Regions from separate parts of the Homo sapiens genome. Here region 1 is linked to region 2. A link means that fine-mapping ties the variant in region 2 to the expression of a gene that starts in the linked region. Tissue or cell type: whole blood. Region 2 holds a variant in brackets; the other region holds the start of a gene. All regions are shown on one strand. Distances are from middle to middle.

Region 1 (2,768 bases), 130 kb after region 2:
CCGGCTGGCGACTCCGCTAGGCCTCCGAAGCCCGGCCTGCAGACCCTTTCTCCCAACCTCTGTGCCTCGTGGGCTCTCTCCGCTCCGACGCCTGGTCGGGGCTTCCCTGTTGAGAGGGTTTTAGGCAGAAGGGCCAAACGACTCAAGCCAGACTCTGCTTTTTCATTTTTCTCCCTTAGGCCTCTCCACTTGCCCGAGCTCTCAGCCACCAGGAGACAGACGGAAGGGGCTTCTGGATTGCGTTGGGAGCGGGCACTGTCCCCTACCCACTCCTGCTCAGTTTCCCAAAGTCCAGCGACTTCCGACCCTCCTTGGGGGGAAAAATACCAGTACCCAGACACCTTTGCACCCTGTTATATGACTGGGCTTGCTTCAGGAATATCTTACAAAGAAGAAGAAGAAGAAAGAACGGCTTGGAGTCATGTTTACATCTAGTTCTACTGATCCGTTCACATCTGGAGAGTTTATTTATAACTCCCTCTATAACTCTCTGTTTGGAGACACTGTGGCTCTATTGACAGACTGATATCTAGGAAATATTGCTCTATGTCTAACCGTACCTAAATGTGCTGTGGTTGTATTTACAGATTTATGTTTGAGGGAAATATAACTATTTCCATTGTATTTGTGCATATACAGTAGTTATAGGAGCAGATTTATATATGGGAAAATATACGACTCTCTTACAGCCATCCAGCTTTATGTACATTTGATATCCTGACAGATTTATATCTCTGAACAGCTATATAGATAAAAACGTATATTGTTAGAATTATGTATCAGAAGATATATACTTATTGATTGTGAAATAGAGTAGTTAGAGCATTCATTTAGAGCCATATATGGCTATGGAGATATTGCTATATTATTATCACTATATATAGGCATATCTATTTATAACTACATAGTTATAAAAATACATATAAGTAATTACAGTCCTATATGTGCATGCTGCAATCTCTCTCTAGAGTTATAGACACTTTCAAATATAACTCTATAGAGAGATCTGTATGCATATAAGGTGTAATTATCTTGTGATGTGTTTACATTGGGACTTAGGCCCGTCTGTCTAGAACACACATATTTATATGTAGGGGCTGGGAGAGACTTGTTCATAGATATCTGCAGAGGGCCAACTGGAAACACTGTATCTGCCCTCTAGGAAACCAGCTAGGAGAGTTGTGTACTTACGGAGGGATGGAGTTACAAAAGGTAAATAGAGCTTAGTGAGCCTTAAGGAGGGGAGGTGAATGGAGGGTGGGTAGGTGGTGGGCTCCCCCAGGCGGAGACGGGGGAAGCAGCAGGGGCTCCCAGCCTCAGGCCTGCCCGGACGGTGTTGGTTGGAGTGAGTCTCCCCAAATGTCGTGCCGCCGTCCGTGATCTCGAGGACCGGTTGGCCTGCGTGCCCCTGGGCTGCTCTTTCACCCGAGGGTCGTTCTGGTTGACAGCAGAACCCCGCAGCCTCAGGGGTTGCCTGGTGGTGTGTGTTTCAATGCCTCTGCTGTATGACCCTTTGTTTGTGTGTGTGTGTGTCTCCCATTCTCCCTTCTCTCTCTGTCTCTCAGTCTCTGTGTGTTTCTTTCCCACTCTCTGTGGGTTTGTGTGTGTGTGCCCGTGTGCTTGTGTGTCTTTGGCTGAATATGCCCTGTGAACCACAGAGCTGTCTCTTGCATGGCGGCCTGTCTTTGTTGAACCTCTTTCTGTGTCTCTGCCTGGGTCATGAGGCCGGTTGTCAATCGTTTTCGCCCCCGCGGATCTGCTTTGGCTGCGTGAAAGCCTGGCCCACGTGAGAAGATGCGTCGGTCTTGGAGCAATTGCTGTCTCGTCCCCATCCTGAGCGTCCTCTTTTCTAGCATCAAGAGGAACACACTGCAGATGAGGACAAGAGCCCCACAGGAGCTCTTTGTCCCACAGGAGATCAGCGGACCCACGTCAGAGAAGATGTTTGAGTCTTTTCGCGGCTCTTCTCTGAGAAATGAAGCCACACCACGATACAGTCAGCAAGAGGAAGCCAGGAATGAGAGATGGCAACAATCCCTGTCCCTGGAACGCTGGCCTCCCTGCACAAGCCACCCTTTAGGAACCCCACCCCTTATGCCTGTGACGGTGGCAAGGTGCTGTATCCTGCCTGGGCTCCGGCCTCTGCTCTGTCCTCCCTCTTGCTCTGCCTCCCCTGTTTCTCAGGGACCTGGATGCCTCTCGCTCTGGCCAAATGCCTTCAACTAAGATGACTTCCCACTCCGTCAGGGAGACACTTCCTGGAGACCCGTGTCGTGATTGTTTGTCTCTCCAAATGTGTTTCTGCTTGATTGGGCAGGTCTCATGGCCCGGGAACACTTGGCTTCCATAGGTGTCTCAGGCAGGTGTCTTCTCCACGTTTCCCCTCATGGGTGGGTGGATTACCTAGAATGAGCGCTAGGCGACCGTGACTGGCCTTGTCTTCCACGACAGGTGGTGTCGCATTTCCTCTGCACTTCCTGTCTCATTCTTGAGGGACATCCTCTCCTCTGCTCCTGGGTGGACTGAACCCCTTGATCTTCTGGCCGAAACGAATGTAAGGGAAACAAAGGGACTGGTCTAGGGCTGGGGGCTGGGGCTGGGGCTCTGTGCAGCCGAAGTTGCGTCAGGGCTGCCAGGGCCTTGGAGGGTTGGGGTTGGGGCGAATTTTGCAGAAACCTCTTTGCTCCTCCGGTAGGCATTCGAAAACGTGGCTTGGGTCAGTCACAGGCCCCCCCCACACCCCTCGGGTCCCAGGTGTTTTCGATTTT
Region 2 (2,768 bases):
GGCCATAGTCACCAAAACAGCATGGCACTGGTATAAAAATAGCCATATAGATCAATGGAACATAATAGAGAACACAGAAATAAAGCCAAATACTTACAGTCATCTAATCTTCAACAAAACAAACAAAAACATAAAGCAGAGAAAGAATACCCTATTCAACAAATGGTGCTGAGATAAATGGCAAGCCACACATAGAAGAATGAAAGTGGATGCTCATTTCTCACCCTATTCAAAAATCAACTCAAGATGGATCAAGGACTTAAATCTAATACCTGAAACCATAAAAATTCTAGAAGACGACATTGGAAAAACCCTTCTAGACATTGGCTTAGGCAAAGACTTCATGACCAATAACCCAAAAAGCAAATGCAACTAAAACAAAGATAAATAGATGAGACTTAATTAAACTAAAAGGCTCCTGAGCAGTAAGAGAAATAATCAGCAGAGTAAACAGATAACCTACAGAGTGGGAGAAAATCTTCGCAATCTGTACTTCTGATTAAAGGACTAATACCCAGAATCTGCAAGGAACTCAAACAAACCAGCAAGAAAAACATCCCATCAAAAAGTGGGCTAAGGACATGAACAGACAATTCTCAAAAGAAGATAAGCAACTGGCCAACAAACACATGAAAAAATGTTCAACATAACTAATTATCTGGGAAATGCAAATCAAAACCACAATACAATATGATACCCCTTCACTCCTGCAAGAATGGTCATAATCAAAAAATCAAAAATTAATAGATGTTGGCATGGATGTGGTAAAAAGGGAACACTTTTACACTTTTTGGAGGGAATGTAAGCTAGTACAACAGCTATGGAAAACAGTGAGGAAATTTCCAAAGAACTAAAAGCAGATCTATCATTTGATCCAGTAATTCCACTCCTGGGTATCTACTCAGAGGAAAATGTCATTATATGAAAAAGATACTTGCACACGCATGTTTATAGCAGCACAATATGCAATTGGAAGAATTTGAAACCAGCCTAAATGCACATCAATCAGTAAGTGGATAAAGAAAATGTGGTATAAATATTTACCACATGGAATACTACTCATTCTTAAGATGGAATGAAATAATGCATTCACAGCAACCCAGATGAAACTGGACACCATTATTCCAA[G/A]TGAAGCAACTTAGGAATGGAAAACCAAACATTGTATGTTCTCATTCATAAGTGAGAGCTAAGCTGTGAGGATGCACAGGTGTAAGAATGATACAATGGTCTTCGGGGACTCGGGGAAAGGCTGGGAGTGGTGGGGTGGGTGCAGTGAGGGATAAAACAGTACATATTGGGTACAATGTACAGTGCTTGGGTGATGGGTGCACCACAAATCTCAGAAATCGCCACTAAAGAACTTATTCCTGTAAGCAAACACCACCTGTTTCCCAAAAACCTATTGAAATTAAAAAAAAAAAAATCATATTCCCCAAAAACCTATTGAAATAAAAAAAATTAACCAAAATATTAGGTATTGGGTACAAGGGCCTTAATGAATGGGAGCACTGCAGTCACATTACAGCAATCCACTGTGAAACACCATTTATTCTTTGCAGGTTTAAGAACAGGCCAAATTCTACTGCTAAACGTTGAAGCAATGAAGATTATCACCCCTTCCCTAATTCATTTGGTTTTATATAATAAGTTTTATTTATTTGAAGTCGTGTTGTAATTTATGTTGAACCATATTTGCTAATTTATCAAGATGGGGAGGCTAGGCACGGTGACTCACACCTGTAATCCCAGCACTTTGGGAGGCCGAGGCAGGAGGATTGCTTGAGGCCAGAAGTTAGAGACCAGCCTAGGCAACATAGCAAGACTCCACTTCTATAAATTTTTTTAATTGGCTGTGTTGGTGCATGCCTGTAAACCCAGCTACTTGGAAGGTTAAAATGGGAGGATTGCTTGAGCCCAGGAGTTCAAGGCAGCAGTGAACTACGATTGTGCCACCACACTTCATTCAGCCTGGGTAATGAAGGAAGACCCCATCTCTAAAAAATGAAAAATTAAAAATAAATCAAATTAAAAAAAAAACAGGAGAGGGAGTTCTGTAAGGTTACATTTGGTGAAGTCAATGTGTAAGTGTAAATGATTTAATATCAATTTGTTACTCATTAGGTCAGAGCATCCAGGTCCCCTATGGACAAAGACTTCTATGACTACGGGAAATTTAGTCAAGGTAACAAATGTGAGGCATAAGTATGTGCCCTCTATTCTATATGCAGTTACTCTGCTAGGATTAGGGGATGCAATGTTTAAATTTAGTGAAATCTCAGGTATAACAAAGTTTGAGCTTCAGTATCGATTTAGTTTGTGAAGGTATGACAATTGGTAGATTTCAGCAGATGTTAAAATTGATTCAGAATATATGCTGGAGAGTTACAAATACCAATCAGCACCCTTTTATCTTTGGACTGTATAAATTGTTGTAGAAAATAGTACATTTCCAATTAGGTCAGATGATAGACTTCCGTATTAAATTTTGTTTTTGTGCATATCCAAGTTCCTTCCCTTCCTTCCTTCCTTCCATCTTTCCTTCCTTCCCTCTTTCCTTCCCTCTTTCCTTCCTTCCCTCCTTCCTGCCTTCCTTCCTTCCATCTTTCCATCCTTCCCTCTTTCCTTCCTTCCCTTCTTCCTTCCCTCCTTCCTGCCTTCCCTCCTTCCCTTTCCTTCCTTTTCTTCCTTCCCTCTCTCCTTCCTTCCCTCTCTCCTTCCTTCCTTCCCTCCCTCCCTCCTTCCCTCTCTGCCTTCCTTCCTTCCTGCCC

Evidence for each region. PIP is the estimated chance that this variant, and not a neighbour inherited with it, causes the effect.
Region 1: it holds the start of LINC01597, and the variant in region 2 is fine-mapped to the expression of LINC01597 in whole blood (TOPMed, PIP above 0.99).

The regions. Positions count from the first base shown.
Region 1 is chr20:30,284,884-30,287,651 of GRCh38, reverse strand. It overlaps LINC01597 (long intergenic non-protein coding RNA 1597), which reads left to right and starts at 1,115. Exons shown (of 2, transcript NR_145432.2): 1 at 1,115-1,212. It overlaps LOC107985433 (putative uncharacterized protein LOC401522), which reads left to right. Exons shown (of 3, transcript NR_171672.1): 3 at 180-624.
Region 2 is chr20:30,413,050-30,415,817 of GRCh38, reverse strand. It overlaps the pseudogene FRG1BP. Among named protein-coding and RNA genes, the nearest start is that of FAM242A, 52 kb to the right of the region's middle. The variant G/A (reference allele first, on the strand shown) is at 1,129.